2 separate regions of the Homo sapiens genome follow, and region 1 is linked to region 2. Evidence: fine-mapped expression QTL. A gene starts in region 2. The other region holds a variant in brackets. All regions are shown on one strand. Distances are between the middles of the regions.

Region 1 (16,734 bases), 850 kb after region 2:
GCATCACTTTAAAAACACTTATTAATATTTCTTATAGCATGAACAGACATACATATGCAGATACACGTATGTGTACACACACATGAAAACTTTGAGAAATTTTGGAAGGAATATTTATGCCCTACCCAAAAACTTCAGATATTTTCATAAAGGACCCTCCTTCAAAAAGATTCCCCCAACCCAGTACTATGAAAAAACATGCCAAACAGTTTAGGAAACAGTTGGATTCAAACACCCAGACTATGTGGTATTTACTTCTGAACAATTATTTTTGTGATCAGGGATGTAGCCCCACATGTGTCATTTTATTTTATTTTTTGAATACTTTATTAATTTTTTTAAACTCTTATTTTAGATTCAGGGAGTACATGTGCAGTTGTATGATGCTGAAGTTTGGAATATAAATGATTTCATCACTCAGGTACTGAGCATAGTACCCAATAGTCAGTTTTTCAACCCTTTTCCCTCCCCACCTTCCCACTCTACTAGTCCACAGTTTCTTTTGTTGTCATCTTTATGCCCAGATGTGCCCAATGTTTAGTTCTCACTTGTAGGTGAGAACATGCAGTATTTGGTTTTCTGTTTCTGCTTTAATTTGCTTAGGATAATGGCCTTCACAAAGAACATGATTTCATTCTTTCTTATGGTGCGTAGTATTCCATGGTGTAGATGTACAACACTTTCTTTATCCAATCCAATGTTGATGGACACCTGGGTTGATTGCATGTCTTTGTTATTGTGAATAATGCTGCAATGAATAGATGAATGCATATGTCTTTTTGGTAGAAGGATTTTTTCCTTTTGGACATATACCCAGTAATGGGAATGGTAAGTCTGATAGCAGTTTTGTTTTAAGCTCGTTGAGAAATCTCCAAACTGCTTTCCACAGTGGCTGAACTAATTAGCATTCCCACCATCAGCGCATATATTCCCTTTTCTCTATAGCTTTACCAGCATCTGTTATTTTTTGATTTTTTAAAAATAATAGCCATTCTTACTGGTGTGAGATTGGATCTCATTGTGGTTTTGATTTGCATTTCTCTGTTGATTAGTGATGTGGAGACTTTTTTCGTATGTTGGCTGCTTGTATGTCTTCTTTTGAGAAGTTCCTGCTTATGACTTTTGCCCATTTCAATGGGGTTCTTTGGTTTTTGCTTGTTGATTTCTCTAAGTTCTTGTGGATTCTGGATATTAGACCTTTTTTGGATGTGTAGTTTGCAAATATTTTCCCCATTCTGTAGGTTGTCTGTTTACTCCGTTGATAGTTTCTCTTGCTGTGCAGAAGATCTTTCATTTAATTAGGTCTCACTTGTCAATTTTTGTTTTTGTTGCAATTACTTTTGAGGACTTAGCCATAAAATGTTTGCCAAGGACAATGTACAGAATAGCATTTCCTAGGTTTTCCTGCTAGGACTATTATAGTTTGAGGTCTTATATTTAAGTGTTTAGTCCATCCCAAGTTAATTTTTGTATATGGTGAAAGATAGGTGTCCAGTTTCATTCTTCTTTCTGCATATGGCTAGCCAGCTATACTGGCGCCATTTATTGAATGGGGAGACCTTTCCTGTTGCTTATTTTTGTCAACTTTGGTGAAGATTAGATGGCTGTAGGTGTGCAGCTTTCTTTCTGTGTTCTCTATTTGGTTCTATTGGTTTGTGTATCTATTTTTGTGCCAATACCATGCTGTTTTCTTTTCTGTAGCTTTACAGAATGGTTTGACATTGGATAACGTAATGCCTCCAGCTTTGTTCCTCTGGCTTAGGATTGCTTTGGCTATTTGGGCTCTTTTTTTGGTTTCATATGAATTTCAGAATAGTTTTTTCTGGTTTTATGGAAAATAATATTCATAGTTTGATAGGAATAGCATTGAATCTGTAGGTTGCTTTGGGCAGTATGGCTATTTTAACAATATTGATTTTTCCAGTCCACAAGGATGGAATATTTTCCCATTTGTTCATATCCTCTATGGTTTCTTTCAGCAGTATGTTGTAGGTCTCCTTGTAGGGACATTTCACCTCCTTGGTTGGATATTCCTAGGTATTTTATTTTTTGTGTTGTTATCATAAATGGAATTGTGTTCTTGATTTGGCTCTCAGCTTGAATGTTATTGGTGTATAGAAATGCCACTGATGGGTGGGTGTGGTGGCTCATGCCTGTAACCCCAGCACTTTAGGAGGCCAAGGCAGGCAGATCACTTGAGGTCCGGAGTTCAAGACCAGCCTGGCAAACATGGTGAAACCCCATCTCTACTAAAATACAAAATTTAGCTGGGTGTGGTGGTGGGCGCCTGTAATCCCAGCTAGTTGGGAGGATGAAGCAGGGAGAATTGCTTGAACCCGGGAGGCAGAGGTAGAAGAGAGCCCAGATTGTGCCACTGCACTCCAGCCTGGGTGACAGAGTGAGACTCCATCTCAAAAACCAAAACAAAACAAAAACCAAAACACAAAATGCTACTGATTTTTTTTACATTGGTTTTGTATCCTGAAACTTTTACTGAAGTTGTTTATCAGTTCTGCAAGCCTTTGGCAGAGTCTTCAGGGTTTTCTAGGTATGGAATTATATTGTCTACAAAGAGAGAGTTTGACTTCTTTTCTTATTTGGATGCTTTTCACTTCTTTATCTTGCCTGAATACTCTGGCTAACACTTCTAGTACTATGTTGCATTGGAGTGGTGAGAATGAACGTCTTTGTCTTGTTCCAGTTCTCAAAGGGAATGCTTCTAGTTTTTGTCCATTTGGTATGACATTTTTTTGGATGTGGGTTTGTCATAGAAGACTCCTATTATTTTGAGGTATGCTCCTTTGATGCCTAGTTTGTTGAGGGTTTTTATCATGAAATGATGTTGCATTTTATTGAATGCTATTTCCACATCTATGGAGATGATCCTGTGGTTTTTGTTTTTAATTCTGTTTATGTGGCAAATCACATTTATTGATTTGCATATGTTGAATTAATCTTGCATCCCAGGAAGGCTGTTTGATCATGGTGAATTAACTTTTTGCTGTACCATTGGATTTGGTTCCCTAGTATTTTGTTGAGGATTTTTGTGTCTATGTTCATCAGGGACATTGATGGTAGTTTCCTTTCATTGTATCTTTGCCAGGTTTTGGTATCAGGGTGATGCTGGCTTTGTAGAATGAGTTAGGGAGGAGTCCTTTCTCCTTGGTATTTTGGAATAGTTTCAGAAGAATTGGTACCAGCTCTTCTTTGCACATTTGGTAGAATTTGGCTGTTAATCCTTTTGGTCTGGGATTTTATTTTTTTGGTTGGTAGGTTTTTAATTACTGATTCAATTTTTGAACTTGATATTTGGCTGTTTAGGGTTTCAATTTCCTCTTTATTCAATCATAGGAGGTTGTGTGTTTCCAGGAATTTATTCATTTATTCTAGATTTTCTAGTTTGTGTGCACAGAGACGTTCATATTAGTTTTTCAGTGAACCAACTTTTGGTTTTGTTGATCCTTCGTATGAATTTTTGGGTCTCAATTTTGTTCAGTGCTGCTCTGATTTTAGTTATTTCTTTTCTTCTGCTAACTTTGGGGTTAGTTTGCTCTTTATTTTTTAGTTCCTCTAGGTGTGATGTTAGACCATTAATTTGAAATCGTTCTAACTTTTTAAGGTAAGCATTTAGTGCTATAAACTTTCCTCTTAACACTCTTTTTGCTGTAGCCTAGAGATTTTGGTATATCTGTGTTATCATTAATTTCAAGGTATTTTTAAATTTCTGCCTATATTTTATTGTTTACTCAAAATTCATTTAGCAGAAAGTTGTTTAATTTTCATGTAATTGTGTGGTTTTGAGACATCTTCTTGGTATTGAATTCTATTTTTTCTTCCACTGTGGTCCAAGAGCATGGTTGGTATGTTTTTATTTTTAAATATATATTGAGACTTGTTTTATGGATAAACATGTGGTTGATCTTGGGTTATGTTTTGTGTGAAAATGAGAAGAATATATATCCTGTGATTGATGGGTGGAGTATTCTGTAGATGTCTATTAGGTCTAGTTGGTCAAGTGTCTAATTCAAGTCCAGAATTTCTTTGTTGGTTTTCTGCCTTGATGGTCTGTCTAACACTGGCAGTGGGATGTTGAAGTCCCCCACATTATTGTGTGGTTTTCCGAGTCTTTTAGTAAGTCTAGAATCTGGGTGCTCCAATGTTGGGTGTGTATATATTTAGGATAGTTTTCTCCCTCACTCGAGAGCAGGCATTCCAGTCTCTGGTCTGATATTAAAATGCCTGACGTTCATGCTGCCAGGTCACCAAAGAATGGCTGACTTTGTATGTGCCTGGGCTAAAAATGGTGTCCTGTTCTCCGTCCTGGGTCTGGGAAAATGTCTGCAGCTTTTTCTTGTGTCTTTCCCTTACATTGTCTCCAAGCCTTTCCCCAAATTAGCTCCCACACTTATGGGAAACAAAGTGCTCTCCCTCAGCCTGGGTTGCTCTGATCCCCAGTGGAAATGTGAGTCATAGAGGGAGGCTACTTGCCTCTCTGAGGTACTCAGGCTTCACTCACTTTTATCAGCTAAATGTCACAGGAGCTGTTTGCTGGCGTTCTCCTCCCCAGTATCTGTGGTGCCCATCATGATTCTGGTGGATTCCCATTTTCCTTCTTGAAGTAAAGCTCCAGAGTTTATCTTTATGCACTATCTTGCTGTTTCCAAGTGGCTGAGGCATTCTAATACCTTTTATCTGCATCTGGGAGGGAGAAAAAAACCCTGTCATCATTTTAAATTTTCTTGAATCCAACTGCCTTTTCAACCAACATTTAGTTTTTAATAGTTTCACCTTGTATGTTCTCCTTCATAGGTTTAAGTTCCATTATTTCAGAGGATGACTGTCTTGTTATTTTTCCTTTTCATAGATGCTGGCTTTCTATGTTATATGAAACTTGATTTAAGTTTATGTTTATTCCACCTCTATTTTAAAAAGGATCTCAGTCCTTTGTAGGAGAAAATAAACTTGCTCAATTTCTTCTGTTATCTGACTCTCTGTCCAGATATTCATCCTTTACTTTATCCATCAACAGACATTTATTGAACACAGGTGCTAGGAATTGAGCTAAATGTCACAGGAGACACAAGGTTGAATATACATGGTTTCTGACCTACTTCAGCTGGCATTTTAGCTAAGGAAAATGGATCTGTCTGGCTGAGGCTTAGTGTGGGAAGAGGGCAGGGCTGCTGTGTGTGGTCACACAGAGAGCCTACATAACTTGAGGGGGTAGCTTCGACATAGGTAGGATATATGGTAGCTTCTTATGGAGTAGTGCCCGGTACTAAGGATCTGTACTAGTACACCATTTTAGCACTTTCCTGTTGGGGTTTTTGGCTTAGCTCCAGGAAATCATTTGTAAGTAGAGTTAGAGCGGGAGAAATAGTTTCTGGTCTGAACAACAGAATCTTACATGTAAAGATGGTTGCCATTTATTAAAGTAACTCTGAGCTAGTGAGATGTGCTGGCTATATACCCAGCTTTGAAATGTGACTCAGGATGTTGAATCTTAGCTGTGACTTGGCTCCACACATGAACCATTTGGATAGTGCACCTGGAAGTACAAAATCTTGTTCTGGACTGAAATCAGCTCACTCATTGAAATAAAAAAAATCATAGCCAGAAATCAATAACAAAAATGAAACTATAAAATTCACAAACCTTTGGAAAATGAAGACATATACTTCTAAACAATAACCCATGGCTCAATGAAGAAATCATGATGGAAATTTTAAAATACTTTCAACTGAATGATTTTGGAAATGTTACATATCAAAACTTGTGAAATATAGTAAAAAGCTTTGCTTATAGGGAAATTTATAGCTTTAAGTACATAAGTTAGGAAAAATGGGAGGTTGAAATTAATGAGCTAGGCATCCGTCTTAAGAAGTTGGGAAATAACAGCAAATCAAACCAAAGAAAGCAGAAGAAATGTCATAATGAATGTTAGAGTAGAAAATAATGAAGTTGAAAACAAAAAATAAATGTACAATACATCAATATAGGCAAAAGTTGGTTTTAGAAGAAGCTATTAAAACTGAGAAGTTTCTGGTGAGGCCAAGAGAGGGAGACACACAAACTCACACACACATGCACACACACACACACACAGAAAGAGAGAGAAAGAGAGAGAAACAGAGAGGAATCAATGTCAAGAATAAAAAAGTGATTATCTCAGGTCCTAGATATTGAAATGATAAGAAACTATTATGAATAACTTTATAGCAAAACTTTACAAAATTTAGGGGAAATGAACACATTCTTAAAGAAGTACAATTTTATTAAAAGACATCTGAAGAAAGAGAAAATCTGAATAGTCTTTTAACTGTTAAGAAAATTGAATCTGAAATTAAAGCTTTTCCTACAAACAAAACTCTAGATCAGATCAGATAAGAAATTATATCAGACATTTAGGACCAAAATAACTATCATGTTACACAAAAGAATATTCCAGACACATTTTATATCAAGTATAAAGCCTATCTCACTTATAGGCATAGAGGTATTAAAAAAACCTAATAAAAATGTTACAAATCAAATGTGATTGCTTTAGCCTTTGAAATCAGTGAAATTAACTTAGAGTAAACGAGAAAAAATCGACCATTTCAATAAGTTCAGAAATTG[C/T]ATTGAATAAAATTTAACATTGGTTCATAATAAGAATTTTTTAGTAAACTGGGAATACAGGAAGATTTTCCTAATGGTAAAAGATATCTATAAAAAGTCTACTATAATTTTATACTTAATGGTTAAATGCTCTTCTTTGGAGATTAGAAATAACAGAAAGATCCTCAGTATCACCACTTCTCTTCAACATTATACTGGAAATGCTATCCAGTGCAAAGAGGCAGAAAAACCAAAAGAAAAAAGGTATATAGATTGGAAGGGAGAAATAAAAGGATTACAAAAAATGATATGATTTTATGAAAAAATTCAAAAGAATGTACAGATAACATTAGTAATACATGACTTTAGTTAATGCATGACTTATAGTATTACTGGTCAATATTGAAATATAAACTGTGAACTTATATACCTGTAATAAACAGCTATGAAATGAATAAAAATACGATTTACAATAGCGTAAAAATATAAATTATCTAGAAACAAATCTAAAACATGATGTTGATATGGTTTGGCTGTATCCACCCCCAAACCTCAATTTGAATTTTATCACCCAGAATTCTTATGTATTGTGGGAGGGACCCAGGAGGAGGTAATTGAATCATGGGAACCAGTCTTTCCCATGCTATTCTCATGATAGTGAATAAGTCTCAAGAGACCTGATGGGCTTATCAGGGGTTTCCGCTTTTGCTTCTTCCTCATTTTCTCTTGCTGCTGCCATGTAAGAAGTAACTTTCACCTCCCGCCATGACTCTGAGGGCTCCCCAGCCACGTGAACTGTAAGTCCAATTAAACCTCTTTTCCTTCCCAGTCTCAGATATGTCTTTATCAGCAGCATGAAAACGGGTTAATGCAGATGTGTAAGACATCTATGCAGAAAACCACAAAGCATACCATAAAACTAAGAATAATATATAAATAACTGGAAGAAAAAATGTATATAGATTTGAAGATTTAATATAAGAAAGATGTTAATGCCGTTCAATCTTACCTTTTCAGTTCAATCCCAATAAACATCCTCATCCCAATAAAAAGCTCATTTTTTTTTTTTGGTGGAAACAACCTGATTCTAAAATTTAAATGAAAATTCAGAGGGTCAAGAATAATTAAGGCATTCTTGAAAAAGGGCAAGTCAGAAGATGATAAGATATAAGCAAATAAAAGTGTGGGCTATAATAGAAAGTTCAGAAATTGACCACAGATAGATGAACATTAAATTTATGACAAAGGTGGCACACCAAAATGGTTGGGAAAGCTCAGGCTTATCAATAAATTATGCTAGGAAAAATGAGTAAAAACATGGAAAACAAGAAACTTGACCCCTTCATCACTCCATAAAAAAAATCAATTCCAGGTAGATGTAAATGTGAGAGGCAAGACAGTAACAGCCTAGAAGATAACTTAGGAGAATATCTTTGTGGTCCAACGTGGAAAAAACACTAACTATAAAAAAAGGGCAAATATGACTACATTAACATTAAGAATTTCTTTTTATCAAAAGAAAGTGAAAAGGCAAAACAGAAAGAAGGAAAGTATTTGCAAGAAATATTACATATTTGAAATCTACTTACAAAGTCTTTGTATTCAAAATGTGAAAAATAAAAAGGAAAAATTAAGAGAAATAACCTATAAGCAAGAGATTTGAATAGGTACTCCCCAAAATATAGAATTCAAATGGCCTAAACATACATGAAAATTTGCCTAACTTCTTTAATAATTAAAATTAAAACCATAAGAAGATACTATTTGCCATCTTCATGAATTGCTATGCTTAATGGGACTGACAAATGCCTAGTGTTGAAGATGTAGAACTAGGTGAACTCACATTCATTGATGTGTAAACTGGTACAACTACTTTGGAAAACAGTAAGGTATTATCTACTAAGGACAGACAAAGATACATGTATTCTTTGACTTAGCAATTACAGTCTTAGATTTATACCCCGCATAAATGGGAACTCATATGTACCAGGAGACATATACGAGAATGTTCATAAAAACATTATTTTAATGGTTGACACAACCCAAATGTCTTATCTAGAATGGATGTATAAATTATGGTATACTCATATAATGAAATACTATACAGCCATGAAAATGAATAAACTACATGTAAGTGCAACAACATGAATTCCTCTTACAAGTACAATGTTGAACAAATGAAGGATTTGAAAGCATATCTGCATTATGACTCTGTTAATGAAGAGTATGAAGAGCAGGCAAGAGTAGGCTGTGGTGTTTGGTGAAGCATTTTTGGAAGTGAGAGTTGGTAAGAAGGTATTGTCATGGAAACCAGGACAGAGGTTGTCTTAGGGGACTATAAAGATTGGTGATTAGGATGAGGCTTTTGAGATTCTGGAAACATTCTGTTTCTTGGCCAAGGAAGTGGGATGTGTATTAGTCAGGGTTCTCTAGAGAGACAGGGCTAATAGAATAGATGTATATACGGAAGGGAGTTTCTTAAGGAGTATTGACTCACATGATCACAAAGTGAAGTTCCACAATAGGCTCTCAGCGAGCTGAGGAGCAAGGAAGCCAGTCTGAATCCCAAAACCTAAAAAGCAGGGAAGCCAACAGTGCAGTTTTCAGTCTGTGGCCAAAGGCCCTAGAGCCCCGGCAAACCACCGGTGTAAGTCCAAGAGTCCAAAAGCTGAAGAGCTTGGAGTCTGATATTTGAGGGCAGGAAGCATCCAGCACAGGAGAAAGATGAAGTCTGGAAGACTCAGCCAGTCTAGTTCTTCCATGTTTCTCTGCCTGCTTTTATCCTAGCTGTGCTGGCAGCTGATTAGATGGTGCCCACCCAGATTGAGGGTGGGTCTACCTCTTCCAGTCCACTGACTCAAATGCTTTGGCAACACCTTCACAGACACACCCAGAAACAATACCTTGTATCCTTCAATCCAGTCAAGTTGACACTCAATATTAACCATCACAGGATGTCACTGTGATAATTGAGAAGTACAGTTTTTTTAATTTTTAATTTTTATGGGTACATAGTAGGTATATATATTTATGGAGTACATGAGATATTTTGATACAGGCATGCAATGACTAATAATGACATCATGGAAAATGGGGTATCTATCCCCTCAAGCATTTATCCTTTGTGTTACAAATAATCCAATTATACTCTCAGTTATTTTAGAATGTATAATTAAATTATTATTCACTATAATCACACTGCTGTGCTATCAAATACTAGGTCTTATTCACTCTTCCTGTTTTTTTTGTACCCAGTAGCCATCCTCACCTCCCCCTGCACTCCCCACTACCCTTCTTGGTTTCTGGTAACCATCCTTCTACTCTCTATTTACATGAGTTCAATTGTTTCGATTTTTAGATCACATAAATAAGTGAGAACATGCAATGTTTGTCTTTCTGTGGTTGGTTTATTTAAAAAAAATAATGATTTCCAGCTCCATCCATGTTGTTGAAAATGACAGGATTTCCTTCTTTCTTATAGATTAATAGAACTCCATTTTGTATATGTACCACATTTTCTTTATCCATTTATCTGTTGATGGACACTTAGGTTGCTTCCAAATCTTGGCGACTATGAACAGTGCTGCAATAAATAGTGGAGTGCAGATATCTCTTTGATATACTGATTTCCTTTCTTTTGGGTATATATCTAGCAGTAGAACTGCTGGATCATATGATAGCTCTATTTTTAGGTTTTTTTTTTTTTTTTTTTTTGAGAAAGCTCCATACTGTTCTCCATAGTGGTTGGAGTAATTTACATTCCCATCAACAGTATATGAGGGTTCTCTTCTTTTCTGTATCCTCTCCAGCATTTGTTATTTCCTGTCTTTTATTTATAAGCCATTTTAGCTGGGGTGAGATGATATCTCATATTAGTTTTGATTTGCATTTCTCTGATGGTAGATGATGTTCAGCATCTTTTCATGTACCTGCTTGTCATTTGTATGTCTTATCTTGAGAAATGTCTATTTAGATCTTTTGCCTATCTTTTGATTGGATTATTAGATTTTTTTTCTATAGAGTTGTTTGAGCTACTTATAAATTCTGGTTATTAATCCCTTGTCATATGGGGTGTTTGCAAATATTTTCTTGCATTTGGTGGGTTATCTCTTCACTTTGTTGCTTGCTTGCTGTGTAGAAGCTTTTTAATTTGATGTGATCCCATTTGTCCATTTTTGCTTTGGTTGCCTGTACTTCTGGGGTATTACTCAAGAAATTTTTGCCCAGACCAATGTCCTTTACAGCTTCTCCAAAGTTTTCTTTTAGTAGTTTCATAGTTTGAGATCTTAGATTTAAAGACCTTTTAGATTGAAAGGCTCTTTTTTGATTTCCATTGGCGTAGAATATCTTTTTCAATCCCTTTATTTTCAGTGCATGTGTTCTTTTTTTTTTTAAATAGGTGAAGTATATTTCTTGTAGGCAACATATCATTGGGTCTCGTTTTTTTCCATCAGTTTAGCCACTCTGTGTCTTTTGATTGGAGAGTTTTGTCCATTTACATTCAATGTTATTGATAAGTAAGGACTTACGCCATTTTGTTATTTATTTTCTGCTTGTTTTGTGGTCCTTTCTTCTTTTTTTCTTTTTCCTGTATTGCTTTTAATGAAGGTGATTTTCTCTGGTGGTATGACTTAATTTCTTGCTTTTTAATTTTTGTACTTTTTTGTGTGTTTTTTGATTTGAGGTTACTGTGAGGCTTGCAAATACTATCCTATAACCCATTATTTTAAACTTATGACAACTTAACACTGATCACATAAACAAACATTCAAAAAGAAAAATAATAAAAACTCTATACTTTAACTTCATCCTCACTTTTTAAACTTTTTGTTGCTTTTCCTTATGTCATATTTTACTGTCTATGTCTTGAAAAGTTGTTGTTATTTTTGATTTGTTTTTTGTGATAGTGCTTTTCTGTGTGCAAATAGTTGTTAAAATTTGCTGTTGCTGTGGGGAGGATGAACGGTGTGGGCTTCTGTTCTGCCATCTTGCCCCACCTCCTGAGATGTGCATTTTAAAATTTTGTGCACTTTCCTTAAAATGATTTAAAAAGAAAAGAAAAATATACATATGCATATCTTTGACCAAAATTTCCACTTTGATTTATGTTATAATACAATCATATATCAGTGAAGTGATGCATTTATAGGATATTGCAACACTGAAATGTAAAAAGATTAGAAGCTACTGAAATGTTCTTTAATAGAGACCAGTTAAATAATTTATGAATAATCCATACAATAAAATATGAAACAGCTGTTAAAAAAGTGAATGACACAGTGCAATGTATACTTATCTGAAAGTCTTTCAATATTAAGTGAACAAAAAAACAGAGTTCAGAATAGTATGGATATACAAAATTTATGTATATGGAAAATGTGTGGCCTATTTCTAAAGTGAATAATAGTAATTTCCTTTGGCTAAAGAACTATGTGACTAGAAGAAAGGAAGAGAAGAAGAATTTTTCAATGAACTTCAAGAGGTGTTTTTGAATTTTTTGCCATAGATATATATTACTTTATTTGAAACTCTTTCAAATAGAAGAAAATACTAAAAAAAAAAAAACCAGAATTACCCCACCAGTCAGATATTTCCCTAAGCGTTTAACATATAAAATACAGGAATTGGTGTTATAGCAATTTTACAGATGTAGACAGTGAGGTTAGAAGGCTAAAAAACTTGCCTAAGATCATTCAGCTAATAAAGAGTGAAGCTGAAATTCAAACCCAAGTCTATATGAAAGGAGATTCAGCCTATTTGAAGAGACACAGCAAGAGAAAGAGAGAGAGAGAGAGAGAGAGAGAGAGAGCGCTTCCTGGCCTTCCTTAGCTCAGTGTGGAGCCATTTTGAAAATCTGCAATACGCCAATGATACCAATGATGCCTCATGTCAAAATTGCATTAAAAGTCATTATGTGTTGTTACAGTTCTTTTGATTCCATTAAAGTCACCCAGTGGTAACTGCCAAGTGAAACAAAATAAAAAGTAGAGATAGAAGCTTAGGAATTAAGGTTTCCTGCAGAAAATTCTAACATATAATAGTATTCACCTCTTTTAAGCTAGCCACCGCTAATTTAGGCCCATTTGTTGGGAAGTGCTTTGATTATATTTTATTTTATGGAGACATAATCTTCTTAATGTTGTAACAATTTCATCTCTTTGATGAAACTTACTATGATTTATTCTATAACTTTATACCCTCATTTTAAACATTTATCAGGGTCTATCTCCCACATCTTCCATGTTCAATGGGTATCAAACAAATCCTAGGCAGTCTGTTTCTAAATGTTACTTGGCTATTCCCCACTTTCTGCATCCCCATTGCCACTCTTCTAATCCAAGCCTTTTGGACCTTTAGCTTTAACTACTGCATTAACATCCTCAATAGGCTTCTTTTTCACTCAATCATTTACCATTCATTCATTTCTTCACTCTCTGTCTTTTGAGCACTTACTATCAACAAGATCTTGGGTAAACAGTGAGAAATAAAGCATAGTCCCCTTTCACAAGGAACTTATGGTTTACTGAAGAAAAACAACCATAAAAGCAGAAAATTACACCACAATATGAAAAGTGCTTTAATAGTAGTATGTACAAGATGTTATGGGAGCCCAAAGGGAGAAATGGAGGATATGCAGTGGAAAGTCATTGGAGGCTTCTCAGAGGAGGTGATGTCTGAATGAAATCTGTGAGGAGTAAGAGTTTTTCACTGGATGTGCAAGAAGAGCAATTGAGAGAGAAGAAATAACTTGAGTCAACTCAGGGAGACATGAAATCACCTTCTCTCCCTTCCCTATCTATGAGTTACAGCACGTAGTCACTTAAGTTATTTTTAATAAAGAGAAATTGGACATGCAGTCTGCTGATAAAACCTTTAATGACGCTCCAATTTCTTCAGAACCAAGAAGAAATTACTTGGTGTCAAAGAACCCTTTCCAGTTTTCCTTCTTACAACTTCCTTGAGATTTGGCAACACCAATTTGGTTAAGTTGGGAATTCTATTTCTTAGAAACCCTTCTTTGTAGGGTTCCCAGTTAGATGTCTGAAGGAAGAACTTGAATGAAATTCGGGAGGTGGGAGAGAAGCAGCAGTTGTTAATTTGGAAGTTTGTCCCAGTCAGATACAGAACCTGATGGGTTCTAGCTGATCATGGCTCTCCTCTTCTCTGTGTCTAACACATCTTCCCAAATGCTGCTCTGCTGACCAGTAGTGGTCTCAAGCCCACTACAAGACTCTTGACTATGAGTGTGCAGAGGTTGTGATCTTTAGAGACCATAGCTTCCTCTAGTCCTGTCCACAAGCTCTTCCTTTGTGGTTTCACTTTGGTGGCTAGATAAATTGGTTTCTTGGATTTCACTGCAAGCTTCAACTTTTCTTCCCTTGCTAGTGCTCTAGGTAGACTGGTTAATGACTTCTCCTCTGATATCCTGACCTTCACTTCCCCAGCTCCTCCCACAGTTGTGTAAGGTCTAATTCCTAAAATAAATCCCTGATTCCTGTAATACTTATGGTGGCTATAAACCCTGATTGATACAGGGAGGTTTCTTTAACAGGTCATGAACATTGATTAGAATGCTCCCTTCCTCTGCTCTCCATTTTTAGCATGGCAAACGCCTGTGTTGTTCACAGGTTCAGTTTAAATGTGTCTTCCATTGTGAAAACTTCTAGAACCTTCCTTTTTGCCAGTTTCACACAAACAGTGGTCCTGAAACACTTTGGATCCCTTTTCTTTATTTCCCACATCTACTATGGTTTGGTGTTTTTTAATCTATTCTCACCACGTATTGTGAACTCTTTCAGGTGGAGGAACATGTTTTACTATCTTTCCTGTCTTTCTTTGTTCTTCCACCCCCTGAGTTGTATAGCACAACACACAGTTCCAGTAATTGATTTGAGCTTATTGACTTGCATAGAACTTTCATACTACTCCTATGTATACATAGGAGTTGCTTCCAAATCTGTAAGGATTTGCAAGACATCTAATAGGAGGATTCATAGTTGAGAATCAGATGATCTTATAGATAAGACATTGGAAAAATGAGGAAGTGGACAGATACACAAAAATCATTTAAACTATTTTATGACATGAAAATAAGACAGTAAAATTAGTACACTAAATAAAGAGAATGCCAATGCCATATTACTCATTATTAGGTGGTTATAAAAGTTACATGACAGTTAATTTAGATTTGCCACTCCTTGGTACTGAAAACTATTTTCAGATTTCTTCTACCATTGTTTTAACACTTAAAAAAATGAATTCATCACTCCTCTTTTATTTCCAGGTAGCAGGCATGCTGAAAGGGCTTTTCTTTGTGTCTTCTCCACTGTTAAAGTATTTAGTGCCTTTTCTGATGACTTAGAGTTGTTGCCTCCCATCTCTCAGGTTCTACTCCTGTTTAGAAATGCAGTGACTTGGATATTAACAACGGAGAAAAATGAGGGAAACAAAAACTAACAAACAGGTAAACCTCAAATCTTTGAGGAAATTTTATTTAACCGGTTCGATCTCACTGAGCAGGCATTTCTCACCTTCTATCCTGATACAGAGATTTAGAAACTCTCTCTGCTCAGCTAGTTTCATGCCAGAGCACGCTCAGCCACCATACTCACATCTCTGTTTCCTGCCTTGCAAAAGTCACAGGAGTGCAGTTCTGAGGCCAGGTTTTACCTTCTTTCCACATCCTAAGGGAGAAAGAAAACATTGCAAAAACTCCAGCTCGTGTTCTGCTGTCTGTTTTGCTCCTTTTCCTATTCCCTACACCACTTTCTCTTTTTCTAATTATCCGCAGTCGGAGAGATTCATAAATCTCATACACTGTAACTGAAAGTGAAATTCTCCCCATTGCTGAAAAGCTGCACAGAAGCAAATCAACAGGTACTGGAATTCTGTATACAGGGAGGCTCACAGCAGGAGAAGTGTATGCTATATTCAATTTTAATATTCTAGTGTTCACAGGTTTGCCTCCATTTGGTATTTTTTTAAAAAAGGAAATAGTAGTTTCTCATAAAATCTTCTTGAAATCCTGCTAGAAATATGGAGAGTATTTATATTAATTGTTTTATTTTAGAAACTTTTTGGCAGTTCTTGCTAATTAACCTGATTGGCTGAGGGAGAAAATTGCTAAGAGACCAATCACATTGCTTTATATTTGAAACCTTGGCTATTTAAAGATAGCTCCCTTGGATTTCATGATAACCAGATCCTGAAATGGTCAGGCATTAGATTTTGAGTGTTTCAACAACTGAATGGGATGGCCCATTGATTGCCCATTCATTGTGACAGCCCAGAGCCCCATGATTGACCAGCATCTGGTTAACTCAGTTGACCTGGATACTCCAGGCCCTGATGATTGCTCCCTGAACCCTAAGGGGAGCTTGGACTGTCAAGAACTAGTCACGTGCCTGTTTTGTTTGCAGAATTGTCATTGTCAGAGAAGAAAATTCATAGTCCACCTTTGTTCTTTCACAGTACCAGGCAGAAAAAACAAAACAAAAACCAAAACCTGACAACACTTTGGAAAATTGGTTCCATTAAAGATATGCTCTATCATATCTACCCTGATGAGCACAATAAAATAAAAATGATTCTGGTGCTATTTACACAGCTGGGTTTATTTGATTTGTAGGTTATTTAAAGGTGCTCTAAATCAGTAGTCTACAAACTGTGGTCCCAGAGCAGAGGCAGCAGCTTTACACAGAAACTTGTTAGAAATGCATTCTTAGGCCCCACTCCAGACCTACTGAATCAGAAACTCTAGGGATGAGGCCTAACAACCTTTGTTTTAATGAGCCTTCCCAATGAGGCTGATGCCTGCTCAAGTTGAGAACCATTGCTCTTAACTGCTGGTATGTGGGGTTTTGTTTAAATGGTGACACCTGGGATCCTAATTCTGCTTGTTCTCTTCTCTCATTCTTTCCTCCTGAGTCTTCCAGTCAGAAGAGTCACTTCTCTCATTCCTTAGTCCCTCAAGGCCTTTTGTAACCTCCGCTCTGGGGGCCTGGGTGGGATGCCTAATGTTGGGATGCACTGGGAACCTTCTAGCCTCGTTAGAATTTAGCAATTAAACCAAAGTGTTCCACCTGGTTTTGTTAAGCAGCACTGGCTGACCTTCTGGGCTGGTCCAGGTACCTGACA
Region 2 (16,734 bases):
GCACGAATGTTCATTGCAGCACTATTTACAATATCAAAGATGTGAAATGAACCCAAATGGTCATCAATGATAGACTGGATAAAGAAAATGTGGTACATACATACCATGGAATACTATGCAGCCATAAAAAGGAATGAAATAATGTCCTTTGCAGGGACATGGAAGCCATTATCCTCAGCAAACTAAGGCAGAAACAGAAAACCAAACACCACATGTTCTCCTTTATAAGTAGGAGCTGAACGATGAGAACAAATGGACACATCGGGGGAACAACACACACTGGGGCCTGTCAGGGGCATAGCAGGAGGGACAGCATCAGGAAGAATAGCTAATGGATGCTGGGCTTAATACTTAGGTGATGGGTTGATCTGTGCAGCAAACCACATGACACATGTTTACCTATGTAACAAAACTGCACATCCTGCACATGTACCCTGGAACTTAAAAGCTGAAGAAAAAAAAAAAAACCCTCTCAAACCCCTGTATGGAAGGAAAACATTAATAGTCACATTTATCTCACTTGTATTTGTCAGAGATTTGTGAATTGCCTTAAAAAAATTCATGAGGCTGGGCGTGGTGGCTCATGCCTGTAATCCCAGCACTTTGAGAGGCTGAGGCAGGCAGATCACCTGAGGTCAGGAGTTTGAGACCAGCCTGGACAACATGGCTAAACTATAAAAAAAAAATTAGCCAGGCATGGTGGTGTGCGACTATAATCCCAGCTACTTGGGAGGCTGAGGCAAGAGAAGCACTTCAATCTGGGAGGTGGAGGTTGCAGTGAGCCATGATCACGCTACTGGACTCCAGGTGAGCAATAAAGTGAGACTCTATCTCCAAAAAAAAAAAAAAAAAAAAAAATTCATGAGCCACAAAAAATTCTACCCTGAATTCCCTAATTAAAAGTTTGGAGAATTAAGTTATGGGACCATCTTTAAGATTGAATACTGTAAGGTTCCATATAAGAATTTTTAATGATGACATTAAAAGAAATGTAAATGACATGGGGAGCTACTCAATCCATTGTGCTGAATGTTAAAACTGGGCTCAAATCCTCTATCTAGTACAGTCCCTAGTAAGCTTATAAATATATACACAAACATGGAAACATAAGCTATGAAATACATGAAAATATTAAAAATGGCTACCTCTAGGTATTGAGATTATGAATGACTTGTTTTCTTCTATATTTCTAGATTTTTCCACAGTGAGCATTTGTTTATTGGGAAAGTACTCTAAACACCCTTGCATTAGCCAGCTCGAGTATAACAGTGAATGCAGAGAAAGGAAGGGGAAAGGAAATGAAGGCAGGTTAGCTTTCTGCTGCCTCTGATGGCTGCAGGAGGCATGTGGCCAAACAGCAGGGAAGAGGATGACTGTAGAGAAACCGACTTCTGTAAGCGTCGGTACACAGATCACATTTTCTTAGAATATGAAAAAAGTCAAGGAATATGTTTGCTCCAGGCTAATCTAGAAAGTTGGTTTTCCTAGATTTTTCCCTAAGCCATAAATCAGAATAGTCCAAGACTCTAAGCCATAAAGCATTCAATAATAAAACTTTTCAAAAAATTACATTTAGAATAGATAGAAAAGTTAATGGTATCAGATAATACATCCTTCTATCAAATTTAGTCTAGATTTGTACTCAGAGAAACGACATAAACTTGCTTTGTTCCTTAACAATATTAGCATCTGCCTCAAGGACCTGGGAATTGGAGTAAAGCTCCCACACAGCCCCAGGAGGCTGCTGTGCCTGTTGGCTGAAATGAACACCATGTCCTTCCTGGTCTGTCTGGTTTGAGCCTGTCTTGCAGATTATTCCTCAGTTTAATTTCAAGTTAAAGACTCTTTAGAGTTGAATTGTTTTCCCCTTTCTCTTTTTATTTTTTATTTTTTGAGACAGGATCTTATTCTGTCACACAGGCTTGAGTGCAGTGGTGCAATCATAGCTCTTTGCAGTCTCAACCTCCTGGGCTCAAGTGATCCTCCCACCTCAGCCTCCCGAGTAGCTGGGACCACAGGTACACACCATCATGCCTGGCTAATTTTTATTTTTTTATTTTTATTTTTTTGAGAGTTGAGGTCTCACTATATTGCCCAGGCTGGTCTTCAACTCCTGGGCTCAAGTGATCTTTCCGTTTTAGCCTTCCAAAGTGAGCCACCATGCCCGGCCTCCTTTTATTCTTGATCTTGACTCCCATTCTAGTACTCATTTTTCCCTTATTATAAAAAGCAGTAAATGTGCTGGGTGCGGTGGCTCATGCCTGTAATCCCAGCACTTTGGGAGGCAGAGGTAGGTGGATCGCTTGAGCCCAGGAGATCAAGACCAGCCTGGGCGACATGGAGAAACCTCGTCTCTACAAAAAAATGCAAAAATTAGCCAGGTGTGGTGGCACACACCTGTAGTCCCAGCTACTTGAGAGGCTGAGGTAGCCAGGAGTTTGAGGCGGCAGTGAACCATGATCGGGCCACTGTACTCCAGCCTGTGTGACAGAGTGAGAACCTGGCTCAAAAACAGTAAATGTATAGATGGGTATAAAATGAAAAGCACCTTCACTTTCCATACCCCTCTCTAGCGATAACAAGTTCCTTGCGTATCCTTCCAGACATTTACTGCATATACAAGCACCTCTTGTTTGTTAAGATCATGTTATATATACTGTTTGGCACTTTGCTTTTTATTTTCTTTTACTGAATAAAAAAAATCGGCACCTTTTCATACGTGGATTTACTTTTCTTTCTTTTCAATGCCAATCTTTTTTTTTCATTTGATAAATATTTACTTAGCCTAGCTCACTGTTGTAGGAGGGTGATCCACAGTAAATGATACAAATAAAGTACCTGCTGCCAAGGTACTTACATTCTAGTAAGGGAGACATAAAATCAACCAATCATCAATCAGTCAACAAAGAATAAATGAATGAAAGTAATTTTAGAGAGTGATGAAGTGAACAATGAAAGGGAGCTGAAATTGTAGGAAGTTGGGACAGACATGGCCATTTTAGATTAAGGAGTCTCCATGCTGCCCAGGCTGGTCTTGATCTCCTGGGCTCAAGTGATCCACCTGCCTCTGCCTCCCAAAGTGCTGGGATTACAGGCATGAGCCACCGTGCCCAGCACATTTACTGCTTTTTATAATAAGGGAAGGTGCCTCTGAGGAGGTGGAATATGAACCGAGACAGAATATATGAAGTAAACTAGGCAAAGAAGTGGGAGAACATTCCAGAAGAGAGAATACAACATGTCTGAAGGCTGAAGGCAAGAACAAGCTTGATGGTCTGAAGCTCACCAAGATGGCCAGTGTGACTGGCGATAGTGAGCAAAGCATAGACTGATCCAAGGTGAAGTGGAAGAGGTAGACGGAACTAGGTCAGTTAGGGAGACTGTTGGCAAATCTCAACTTTCTAAGAGAAGGTCTAGCATGGTGAGGAGGACAGCTGTCCTGGGAGCTTGAATCTTCTCTACTCCCTATTCAACATTAGAGTAGCTACAAAATCTTAGGGAAATCCCTTCACCCCTCCCTGGATCTCAGCTGCTTTTTCATCTATAAGGGACAGGGCTGTTAGGAAGAGAAGGAAATGTTTTGTGCTGGAAGACTGAAGCTGAAGCAGGGGAACCCTCCTGATCTAAAAGCTGTGTGATAGGCTAAATAATGGCCCCCAAAGGTATCCACATCCTAATCCCCAGAACCAGTGGCGATACTATCTTACGGCAAAAGGGACTTTCTAGATGTGATTAAGTTAAGGATCTTGAGATGGGGAGATTATCCTGGATTATCCAGGTGGGCCCAACATAATCACATGGATCCTAATAAGAGGGAGCAGGTGGGTTAGAGTCAGAGAGAGAGGTGACCACAGAAGCAGTGCTCAGAATCACGTGAGCCTTGGGCCAAGAACATGGGCAGCCCCAAGAAGCTGGAAAAAGCAAGAAATGGATTCTCCCCTAAAGCTTCCAGAAGGACCTGCCCACCCATTTTAGTCACCGATTATAGACCTCCAGCACTATAAGAAAACAAATGTATGTTATTGCAAGCCACTAAGTTTGTGGAAATTTGTACAGTAGCAATCAGAAATGAATGCACACTGTAACCATATGATTCTAAAATGCCTTGGAATCAAGCGAGGTAGTACTCGCCTGTGGTAGAAGATAAGCAGAAAGTGACAAGGAGAAAGCTCTGGGGAGAAGCAGGAAGCTCTGTGGGAGGAAGGGGAAAATGGGGCTTGGGGCTGTGGAGTTTGATGTGAGCTGGCTTCCCATCAGAGGACCCATATAAGCTATTAATACTTCCTATATTTAATGTTGGCCAAGGGTCTGGCTTGGGGATGAGGGCCAAAGGGATGGAGGTGAAGAACTCAGTGTCTGAAGAGAGGAAACCATTTTTTCCTCAAAGTTTATGCTATACAATTTTAATATGTTGCCTTAAGCTACCTTAAGGCAAGAATTTGGGCAAGTCCAAGCCAATAGGAGGTAACAACTATCCTGGTTTGCCTAGGGCCGCAGGGTCTCCTGGGGTGCAGGACTTTCCATTTTAAAACCTAGGGTCTGGCTAGGCACGGTGGCACACGCCTGTAATCCCAGAACTTTGGGAGGCTGAGGCGGGTGGATCACCTAAAGTCAGGAGTTCGAGACCAGCTTGGCCAACATAGCAAAACCCCATCTCTCCTAAAAATACAAAAATTAGCTGGGCGAGATGGTGTGTGCCTGCTACTAGTGGGGCCGAGGGAGGAGAATTGCTTGAACCTGGAATGCGGAGGTTGCAGCGAGCCGAGATCGTGCCACCGCACTCCAGCCTGGGTAACAGAGCAAGACTCTGTCTCAAAAACAAACAAACAAACAAACACACATACCTAGGGTCCCAGGCAAACTGGGATGAGTTGATTACCTTAGCTGATAGCCTAAAGGGGTCTCCCTGACTAGGGCAGAGGCTACTGGGCCACCTATATAGCAACACTAAAATGCAAAAATGTACAGGCATCTAACACATGTTGCTCTGGGGAATAAACCATACCCCTCTGGTGTCAGCCGCATACCCTAATTTGGTACTATAAAACTCATGTGTCTGGCCACACATTCCCAATTCACAGGAAACCATCCTTGGATTCCAAAATGGGAAATATCTGCAGAGGTCATCACGAAGCAGGGGCTGGGAATCTCAGCTGGGCAAGAAACAAGGCCTGTGTGTGTCAGAAACAAATCTGTCAGGCCAGGCACATTAGCTCACGCCTGTAATCCCAGCACTTTGGGAGGCTGAGGCGGGCAGATCACCTGAGGTCAGGAGTTCAAGAACAGCCCGTCCAACATGGTGAAACCCGGTCTCCACTAAAAATACAAAAATTAGCCAGGCATGGTGGCACATGCCTGTAGTCTCAGCTACTTGGGAGGCTGAGGCAGGAGAATCGCTTGAACCTGGGTGGTGGAACTTACAGTGAGCTGAGATTGTGCCACTGGACTCTAGCCTGGGCGACAGAGTGAGACTCCGTCTCAAAAAACAAACAAACAAACAAACAAAAAACGGCCAGGCGCAGTGGGTCACACCTGTAATCCCAGCACTTTGGGAGGCCAAGGTGGACGGATCACAAGGTCAGGAGTTCGAGACCAGCCTGGTTAACACAGTGAAACTCTGTCTCTACTAAAAATACAAAAATTAGCCAGGTGTGATGGCATGTGCCTGTAATCCCAGCTACTCAGGAGGCTGAGGCAGGAGAACTGCTTGAACCCAGGAGGTGGAGGTTGTAGCGAGCTGAGATCATGCCATTGCACTCCAGCCTGGGCAACAGAGCCAGACTCCATCTCAAAAAAAAACAAAACAAAACAAACAAACAAACAAAAACATCTGTTAACTAAGGGGCTGCCAGTCACCATAAGAGATACAGGAAAGTGCATGCTGCCAGCCCCTGCTCTGGGGAGTGAACAGATTCAGTTTATGGTCCTCCCCAGCCTCACCAGACCCTTCCCACCTTCCCCCAGGCTCTCAGCCACTTGCTCAATGGGGAGCCCTGCAAAGAAAGCTGCATCATTCCTAAACTGAATCCTGGCCCAATCACTAACCAGCTGCATGACCCTGAAGGAATTATTCGACTTTGCTAAGCCTGCTCGCTCATCGCACAGATGGGGATGATACCACTTTCCTTCATACAGGGAAAAATGACAGCACTGTTGTTTGCACCTGGCAGGGCTCTAGCTTATACTTCCACAAGTAAAACTCATCAGCATCCTTTCCTCCCTTTCCCACCTGAGTGCCAAGGGACAAACACACTTAGGAAGGAGCTGGGCGAGTCTGGGCTGGGGTAAGGTAAGAGCGGCTGCAGGGTCAACTATGGGACCAAGACAAGCTCAGAAATCATCTCTCGCTCTTCCACCTTCAGCTGTAACTTCCATTAGGAGCTGGCAAGTGGCACGCAAGGTAGGCTCTCTGATAAGAGGGAAAGAGACATTTGTCAAGAACTCTTACCCCAGGTCACTTACCTCTCACACTTCATTTCCCTCCCTCAAGCTGTCTTGTTCTGCCACAAAACATGGCAGGCAGAGTGAGCCCAGTAAAGCAATCAGATCCATCCTCTCTCTCAAAACCCTCCAAGGGTTTCCCAACTCACTGGGAGTAAGAGCCCAAATCTTCACTGCACCCATGGGGTCCTGCATGAGCTCCCAGCATAACCTGCAGCTGGACTCTGCCCTGCATACTCCCCTCCAGACACACCTGCCTCCTCACTCTTCCTCAGATACATCAGATACACCAAACACACCCCCTCCTGGGGCCTCTGCCTAGCTCCTCCTTTTTTTTTTTTTTTTTTTTTTTTGAGACGGAGTCTCGCTCTGTCGCCCAGGCTGGAGTGCAGTGGCAAGATCTCGGCTCACTGCAACCTCCAACTCCCTGGTTTAAGCTATTCTCCTGCCTCAGCCTCCCAAGTAGCTGAGATTACAGGCACCTGCCACCATGCCCAACTAATTTTTGTATTTTTAGTAGAGACGGGGTTTCACCATGTTGGCCAGGATGGTCTCAATCTCCTGACCTCATGATCCACCCGCCTTGGCCTCCCAAAGTGCTGGGATTACAGGCGTGAGCCACCCTGTCGGTCCGAGACCCTGTCTCTTAAAAATAAAGATGAATAAAGAAAAGAATGGCTGAGTGCGGTGGCTCACACCTGTAATCCCAGTACTTTTGGAGGCTCAGGCGGGCAGATCACTTGAGGTCAGGAGTTCGAGACCAGCCTGGCCAACATGGTGAAGCCTACTAAAAATACAAAAATTACTTGGGTGTGGTGGCACATGCCTATAGTCCCAGCTACTTGGGAGGCTGAGGCAGGAGAAACACTTGAACCTGGGAGGTGGAGGTTGCAGTAAGCCAAGACTGTGCCATTGTACTCCAGCCTGGGTGACAGAGGGAGACTCCGTGTCAAAAAAAAAAAAAAAAGAAAAGAAAAGTAGAGAAATGAGAGAACCTGGCTGGGAGATCAGGAGACATGTCAAAGGGGAAGAGGTCAATACAGTGATAAGAACCTTCAAGAAGCAAAGGCTTTATGCGGGGTAGAAGAGAAGTGGTCTGGAAGCTGCAGGGGAATCAAGAGGGACACAACCACATGACTTCTGGTCTTTCCAGCTCACAAATTCTGACATATGCAGGTAGGGATAGACCCTTCCACTGTGGGTCTAAAATCTGGCCCTAGCTTTTGAGGGCACCACACTCTTGGCAGGACAAAAAAAAGTTTCTTCTTTTGGATTGACTACATTTGCCCCCTGAGGTTCCCTTTGAAAAGCTGCATCTCTGCTCTCTGTCTTAAGGCAACTTACAAATTCACAGAAAACCTGAAAATATCCAGGCATGCAGCCTGCACTATTGAATAAGTGAGTTTCTGGAGAACGCCCTCTGCATGAAGCTCAAAACGGGTTTGGCGAAAATAATCTGAAGTGAGCCTGAGCTGGCACTCTGATTGCCTGGGGGGAATCCGGGTCCCAACACTTAGCAGGGGACCTTCGGTAAGTCCTTTAATTCTTTGTGCCTCAGTTTCCTCATCTGTCAAATGGAGAAATTAGATGACCTATGAATACTTTTCACCATGTTGGCCAGGCTGGTCTCAAACTGGGAGAAGGATTTCTGGGAAAACTTTTGCTTTGCTTTCTTGATAGGGAGCAAAGAGAGATTGGTGTCCATATTCCCCCTTCTTCCTGCCTTGGATACAGAAGTGATGTTTGGAGCTGTGGCAATCATATTATAATCATGGGGCAAATGCCACTGCTCTAAGGTGTGGAGAAGAAAGGCAGAAGGAGCCTGGGTCCCTTGGTGGGGGGTGCATGGTGCAGCTGAACAACAGCAGGTGATCATCCACCTTTGCTCTTGTTATGTAAGAAAAGTAACTCTCAATTTGCATAACTACATTATTTGGGGTTTACAGTTAGTGATTGCTGGACAGGATTTCTAAGCTTAGAGTGCCTCCTATTTAAAGAAGACCCCTAGGAAAGCACAGCACACGCTAGATCCAGGTCATCCACTTCTCTTAAGTGATCTTCAGAGATCAAAAGGTAAAGGCCCTAGCACGAACCCCATTTTTCCATTCCACATAGAATGTAAAGGGTGGCATCGATTAGGAATGGCAGGAGAACAACGTCAAGGTGTGCAGGAGGGCACCGTGGGAGGTGCTCAGCAAAGGGGAGATGCCACCCTCAGAGCTCAAAAGTGAGCAGATACAACCACTTCCCCAAGCCTGGCCCCCAGCCCAAGCTCTGCTGAGGAGGAGCCCTCTGACAAAGTAAAGGAACGCTGTTTTGGCCAAGAGCCGCTGAACCTGGCTATTTAATCGCTCACTCATAAAAATCACAGAGCCAGTTCTGAATTACGGTGGTGGTGGTGAAGAATGCAAGTTTAAGATCGCTATGGCTTTTTTATGCCAATCCACCACATCGATCCAAAAGCTTTTTAAACAGCCTTAAACGAACTGAACGGTTGAATTTAGTGAGCTCCTCCGTTTCCCTTCTCTCTCCGTCATCCAGCTCCCCGCCCCAAGGATAGGGGAGAGGTTGGAAAAATGAGCTTTGAAATTGCAGTCTCATAAAAGCAAAACTGAGAAAAGATACAACAGTGATGGAGAAAGCCAGACGGGCATTAAAAAACAAAACAGGAGTCTCTCCTAGGCCGCGCCTACACGGGCTCGCCGCGCTCGCTCGTCACCACCGACACCCCACCCCCTGCCCTCCGCATGGGAGGGGCAAGAACGCGATCCGTTCGCAGCTTCCAGGCAGGTGATGAGGATAGCTAGTCCCGCGGTCCTCCGCTAGCTGGCGGCGGGGGTCGGCCAGGTGCCCGGACCCTCCGAGGGCCCCACCGCCGCGCGTCCCGGGGATCGGGACCGCTACCCGCGCCTCACCTGCGCGCCCGGGCCCCAGGGCCCTGCTCCCGGGCGGTGGCGCGGGCCTGGCTCCCGTCGCAGCCACGACCGCCCCCACCGCCCCCGCCGTCCCCGCCCGGGAAGTGGCGAGCCGGTCCGGCTTGCCCCGCCCGCCTCCCGGCCCGCACTCACGCTCCACATCGTGCAGCTTGGCTCGCTCCTCCTCCAGCTTGCCCTTGAGGCTCTCGGCCTCGCTCTTCAGCGACGCCAGCGTCTCGTTCTCGTGCAGCCCCTCGGTTGCCATCTTCGCGCGGGGACGCAGCGGAGAGGGAAGCGGAGAGCGGGAATGCGCTGAGCCGCGGCGGGCGCCGCTCCAGCAGCCGTCCCCGGCCCCGAGCACCGCCCCGCGGCCCCGCCCTCCGCGATGACGCCAGCAGCTGCGGGCCCGGCTGCTGCGCCTGAGCCCCAAGACCCCGCACCTGGGCGCGCGCTCTGGCGCAGTGCCTGGTGCGATGTCCGCGTCAGCCTCTCTCCTCCGGGAGAGGCAGGGAGTGTGACGCCCATTTTACCAGCGGGCAAACTGTGGCTTAGGGATGCTGGGTGATTTGCCCGAGGACGCACACAGAGGGAAGGGCCAAGCCGGGATTCCAACTCGGGACTCCCCGCTTCTGGGGAGACCGGTGAGGCCCCCGCGACATGGCCCTCCCATCCCCAAGCCTCTCGTGCAGATCTCCGCTCTGTGGGACTTGATTGCGGGCTGCGGGCCCGTGGCTCCTGCAGGCAGAGAGAGGACGGGAGAGGAGACGGCTACGAGGCTTGGCCGCAGGTAGCTACGGTGCTCCCCCAACAAGGAACCGGAAACCCTCTTCGTTTGTTGATCTAAATATACAAAAATAAAACTAGTTGCTGGGTTCTCAGACGGAGTCTCTGCGGCATTAGGAGGCCCACCCTTATTTTCTCTTTTCTTCACGCAGGAATCAGGTCCCTGGCCTGGGGGCGGCAAAAGGAGATGGCGGTGGGTCAAGTGGGCGCGCAGGCTCAGACCTGGGGCTTCTGAGCCCACGCCCAGGCATCTCGGACCTCTCACTTCTGAGGCCACCTCCTGCCCTTTAGAATGAAGGGCTGGCACAGTTCTGCCAGGATGCACGTTTAGCGACTTCTGTCAGACTGAAGCATCCCCTCTCCGCAAGCGCCTGAAGTGTGAGAGGCACTGTTCTAAGTGCTTTAATTTGCACTTGTTTAATCCTCACAGGAGTCAACTTGAATGGGCACACTTATTCCCACTTTACAGAAGAGGAAACTGGGGCACAGAAAGACTGAGTAATTGCTCAGGGGGCATGCTCCAAGAAAGAGGGAGAGACAGGATTTGGACCCAGACAGGCTGGCTCCCTAGTGCTCTGGACTTTGGTGTGGATGATCCAACTCAAGCCTTCTCCTTTTTCCCTCCTATGTGATCTTGCATGCGTTTGTGCAGAGAATGAGAAGGCAGATCAAAGTTACAGATGCTGCGAGAACATCGCCAAGCAGAATCTTGGGTGCTGTCCCCACCTCTCTGTACCTGCTCCCTCCCAGAGAAGCCAGCCTCCACTTGCTGTCCCGGGCCTTCTCTATCTGAGAAAAGTTGAAGGTACTCGATGTTAATCTGTACATAGTTGTTTTGCAGGTTAGAGTCTGGGATCCTCCGTTTCCTTATCTGGAAAAGCTTCTTCATAGGATCTGCTTCATAGGATTGTTATGAGAATTAAGTAAGATGGTGTGGGCCGGGTGCGGTGGTTCACACCTGTAATCCCAACACTTCGGGAGGCCAAGGTGGGTGTATCACCTGAGGTCAGGAGTTCGAAACCAGCCTGGCCAACATGATGAAACCCTCTCTCTACTAAAAATACAAAAATTAGTCGGGCGTGGTGGTACGTGCCTGTAACCTCAGCTACTCAGGAGGCTGAGGCACGAGAATCGCTTGAACCCTGGAATCAGAGGTTGCAGTGAGCCGAGATCGTGCCACTGCACTCCAGCCTGGGCAACAGAGCAAGACTCAAAAAAAACAAAAACAAAAACAAAAACAAAACAAAAAAAGGTAAGATAGTGTGGGTGAAGACTTTAGCAGACTTCTCCGTACATAGCAGATGCTTATTCACTGCTAGTTCTCTTTTCCGTTCCCATCCGTATAATAATAGGTTTACTTGTCGCTGTTCCTTAGTATTTAGATATTTAGCATAGTACTTGCATATGGTAGGTGCTCAGTTAATGCTAGTTTATTAAATGGATGTATAAAAAATATATAAAATATATAAATCTGTATAAACTATGTTAAAAATATAAACATATAACAAACATGTTTATAAATGAATAAATATATAAATACAATTATTAAGTATAAGATAAGAATATATAAAAGCAAAAATATTACACCTGTTTGAGAGTTTGTAAAGCAAAAGGTTAAGAGCACAGGCTCTATCTAGATCTGACTGCCTGGGGGCAAATCCTGGCTCTGCTCTGTGGCCTGAGGGATTTACTTGTGGTGCCTCAGGCTCCTCATCTGTGAATGGGGGACAACACCTCCTTCAGACTCTGTATGGCATTCGGAGAGAGCAGTGCGTGGCACACAGTATGCATCTGTTATTATTACTGAGGCTGCCTGATACGCTTGAGCAGTTCACATGAGGTAATTTAAATGAGACACTGGGTCATGGGGGATTCTTCTCACAAGGGCCATCTCAGGGGGCCCAGGCAAGGCAGCCTCATCTCATCACCTCCTTAGGCTGGCTCTGTTTGGACCGTTGCAGGATGTGTGTGTGGTTCAAGGTCCTCCTGGCTGTGAAGACCTGAGGCACGTGGTACTTCTCACTGGTGTGTGCCCTCTTCTGGGGGTTCTTTGTGTAAAATAAACCTCGAACAGCCTCCAACCTGGAGAGTCAACTATCTAGAGATGAGGCCATCAGACTTTTAATGGTTAGGCAGTTTTCCAAGTACTTTCTTGTATTTTGGTGTTAACTCCCACTGAGGAAGCTGGATATCAGAAAAGTTGAGGTCAGCTACATTCCACAGTGGTTGAGATAAAGGGTCACTCCTATTCACAAAAAGGGCCCAATGGGGACTGTGTCTACATAATCCCAAACAGTTGGATGAAAGGCCAGCTGTCAGTCACTGGATGTCTCTTCAGCTGAATGATGCTGTCTGAATATTTGGGAACCCCCAAGTAGAGAGTAGAGATTGTATTAAAGTAATTGTGGTTTTTGCCATTGCTTTCAATTGAAAGCAATGAGAATTGTTATGAGAATTAAGTAAGATTGTGTGGGCCGGGCGCAGTGGTTCACACCTGTAATCCCAACACTTTGGGAGGCCAAGGTGAGTGTATCACCTGAGGTCAGGAGTTCAAAACCAGCCTGGCCAACATGGTGAAACCCTCTCTCTACTAAAAATACAAAAATTAGCCAGGCATAGTGGTTTGTGCCTGTAACCTCAGCTACTCAGGAGGCTGAGGCACGAGAATCACTTGAACCCTGGAGTCAGAGGTTGCAGTGAGCCGAGATCGTGCCACTGCTTCAATTGAAAGCAATGGCAAAAACCGCAATTACTTTTGCCCCAACCTAATAGTAGCGCTAGCTGGCAACTATTCCCTAGAAAAGTATCTCCAGGCATGGCCCCTGTGCTAGGGAGAACCTGTGTGCCACAGAGGACTCAAAATCTGGGATTCTTGGGCTTATTCCACCTGCAGAGGAAGTTGTTTAAAAAGCAGAAGAGTTAGATTAATAAATAATGGGGGGGGGGTAAGGCCCCCAGAAAGCAGGTTTATTTTTAAGAACTAAATGTCCTCAGTTCTACAATTTGCAGGGCCAAGTTAGAACGTAGACTGTAGAAATATACTACAGGTAGAAGCCCACTACACCTAGGCTGAAGACATATCCAAATTGCTATGCTGTATCAAAGCCTTTTTATGCCACCCTGGGCTGTTTACTTGCTATTTGCTTTAAGGGAATAATTTTTAATGTAATCATGGTCAGGGGTTACAGTGGAATCAGGAGGATAAAAAGTGCCTTTTCTTTTTCAGTTAGATAAAATGTAAAAGTCATCTTTCCTCTCTTTGGTTGTATTATGGATTTTGTTGTTGTTTTTTTAAATGTGTGGGGATTTCCTACTGGGCTTTTCAGGAGGAGTGCTTTACCACTTTTCACCAAGTGGGGGCTCTGCTCAGCTGCACTATTGAGCGCAGCTTTGCAAATTCTCAGAGATAGGACTAATTCTTAGGGCTTCAGTGATGCTGTGGGCATTTTTGCTGCAAGATCTGAAGCCTGTGCACAGCCACCTCTGGTGAGGACTTGATTTTGTGTACTTTGAAAAATTCCAGGATTTGTATTCCATTCCTAGTCTTTGTTGAAGGCTTAGGCCCAAGGAGTACTTCTGAGCTGAATTTTGCTCACTACTGAGGCCCTGTGAGATTCCATCTTCATTAGAGCTGGACCTACACACCACTGGGACCGGTCCTTGGAAAGATGCTCCTAGACTGTTTATTTGCCAGCTTCTCTTTTAGCTTGATTGCCTGCCAAGCAGACTTGTAGAAGTCAGAAGAAAAAAGTATTAGCCCTAAGAAATAATAGAAGCTAAAACATTCATTGAGTACTTTCCTTGCTGGGTACTATTTAAAATAAGTTATCAAATGAAATCATTTGATCATCATAAAACTCTTATGATGTAGGTGCTATTAGCATTCCTATTTGCAGATGGGAAAAACAGGCTTCAGGAGAGAGGTGAGAACCTCCTTGCACACCAATAACTAGGAACATCAATAGGATTTGGACCCAGGCAGTCAGACACCAGAGTCCACACCCTGAACCTCTGTACTATACTGCCTCACCAAGCCCAGGCATACTGAAAAGTGTGTGTTATATAAGCTGATTCTATGGCATCTCATCTGTCACAGGACCCTCGCTTGACTGTTTTAAGACAGATAACTGAATTTTTTTTAAGTGGCACTTACAATTTCTGCACATGTTGAACAGTAGCTGAGTTGTTGAGACTTCTTGAAAACTGGTCTCAGAGCTCGTTGTTTGAAACATTTGTCACATGAGCCAAATACATTAACGAGAAAGGTCTGATCACACATCTTTTACCCAAGATAAAGCTGAAAAAAAGTGAAAAGAAGGGAGGGGGTGTGAGAAAAGCCAATGGTTTTAACTTTCTAAAATCTCTTCTTGCTTGTACCGTGGTAGCTATTCAGACGTCTACATGTGGGATAGAGTATATGCAGTTAATTTATAACCTTTCAACTATTACAACATGCTGGGTCAATACAACTCATTTAATCAGTGAGAAAGCATCAGACAATAGGTTTTCTGAACTTAACACGTTTAACCAGTTTTTTGGCAGCTGGCAGACCTGCGTCAGGCAGGATTGATCCTTGCAGCACAATATCAATTCTGTGGGGTTTCACAATGGAAAACGTTTTTGTAATGGATGCTATAACTTAAAACTTTTAAAAACATTCCTCCCCTCAGGGTGAACTTTTAAAGATAAGGGTCAGCAAATGATGGAGCCTGACCCCAACCAAAGCCAGGGGCCTGAGTAAGTGTGGTGTGGGTTCCGTGCAAGGCAAGCACTCACTTATTAAACATTTGACAGCCAAAGACCCAGGGTCCCTGCCTGTTCACAAGGAAGTCAACAGACAGGCCCAGGCCGCTGCAGGGAGGCAGCACAAGCATCTAGTGGTTACAGGGACAGGCTCTGGCTGCCTGGTCCCGGCCCACCACTGAGGCTAGTTAGCTGACCTCTCTGAAGCTTGGTTTTGCTAATCTGTCAAGTGGAGATCTTAAAATCTACCCTTCTGGGGTTGTCAAGAGAATGATAAGAGTCAGTGCGTAAAGCACTTAGCTCAAGGTCGGTAATACAGGGAGTGTGCCAGCGAGGTCATGCTGCCCTGAGTGGCAGCAATAGCGGGAACAGTGGCTGCCTTGGGAAGGAGGGACATGGGTAGGGGCAGGGTGAGGCTGGGGATGCCAAAGAAAGCATAAGAGGAGCCTATGGCAACGGTTCAGACAAGACGCGAGGAAGTCATGGACTAAAGGTGAGAAAGTAACTTTTATCTGAGGAATGCAAGCCCTTTTAAATTATCAGGCCCAGAGAATCATGAAAATGAGACAGCAATAACGTTCTAGTCCCCACTTTGAGCTGTGTATTCATCTTTTTATTATTATTATTATTATTATTATTATTATTATTATTATTATTTGGGACAGTATCTCTCTGTCTCCCAGGCTGGAGTGCAGTGGCACAATCTTGGCTCACTGCAACCTCGTTCTCCTGGGTTTAAGCGATTTTCCTGCCTCAGCCTCCCAAGTAGTTGGGATTACAGGCATAAGACACCATGCCAGGCTAATTTTTGTATTTTTAGTAGAGGCAGGGTTTCACCATGTTGGCCAGGCTGGTCTCAAACTCCTGACCTCAAGTTATCCACCCACCTCGGCCTCCCGAAGTGCTGGGATTACAGACATGAGCCACCACACCTGGCCTCATCTCTTGAAACTGCTTGCCATTGGCACAAGTAGCTAAAAAATAACCTAATAATGCCACACTGGACACTATAACCCACACCCTGTAGTGTAACAATGTATAACCAGTCGCTAATCAATGTTATTTCTGTAAACTAATGAGAATTCCTAACAACTTTGTATCAGCCCACTCCCGGTCCCTCTTTTTTGCCTTTTTAAAAAAACTGCTTGTAACAAAGGCCAAACAGAGATAATGTCCAAGGTTACTTGGGTCTGGGCCTTCCAGGAATCTGTCCTCACTTTGGCTCAAGTAAACTCCTTAAGTCTTGGTTTGTGCTACAGCCTCTTCCTTTTAGGCCCACAAAGCAATGTAGTGGGATGGACTTGGACCATGCTTAGGAAAGAGAGAAGGAGCTGGATTTGGCATGTGGAGTTGAGGAGAGGGAGATGTGGGTGCTGTGGCCTAGATTTCTTTGGGAGACCGAGGGGTTATGTTGCCATTGCTGGAGATGAGGACAAAGCGGTTAAGGGGGAAGGGAGCAGCCAGTGTGGCCCTGTCAATTTGGTAGGTGTTCTAGAGTGAGCCCCGTCAAGATTCAAAGAAATGAACCCCTGAACATAAAGATAATTGGGGGCGCTGGTCTGAACATTTCAACAGAGTCAAATCTGAGAGGGATGCATTTATGGGGGAGGTGACAGTTGGGGACATTTCTGATGAGGAACGTCTGCCATGTGGAGCCCACCCTGGGGCTGGAGAGATAATGGGGGCTCATGAGTTGGGCTGAGCTCTTACAGCAAAGGGGCAGTCAGCACAGTTCGAGACCTCTGGGCAACAAAGGTGTACAGGGCATCCCTTAGGGACAACAGCTCGCAAGGAAACCAGCTACCAACTGCCACAGAGTGCCCAGCCCTCGCCTCTCCCTGGGAGGGAGGCA

What was found. PIP is the estimated chance that this variant, and not a neighbour inherited with it, causes the effect. A credible set is the group of variants that fine-mapping cannot tell apart.
Region 1: its variant is the best candidate, but not a certain one, in a credible set for the expression of CERNA1 in substantia nigra (GTEx, PIP 0.53).

Annotation. Positions count from the first base shown.
Region 1 is chr15:53,015,698-53,032,431 of GRCh38, forward strand. All of the region lies in intron 4 of LOC107983981 (a long non-coding RNA gene), which reads left to right. Among named protein-coding and RNA genes, the nearest start is that of LINC02490, 92 kb to the right of the region's middle. The variant C/T (reference allele first, on the strand shown) is at 6,619.
Region 2 is chr15:52,170,259-52,186,992 of GRCh38, forward strand. CERNA1 (competing endogenous lncRNA 1 for miR-4707-5p and miR-4767) reads left to right here and starts at 9,768. Exons shown (of 3, transcript NR_102751.1): 1 at 9,768-10,143; 2 at 10,792-10,944. GNB5 (G protein subunit beta 5) reads right to left here. Exons shown (of 13, transcript NM_016194.4): 2 at 14,293-14,436; 3 at 9,510-9,621. The coding sequence starts at 14,418. RefSeq lists a silencer at 9,179-9,838 and enhancers at 9,884-10,385, 10,209-10,298, 14,147-14,316.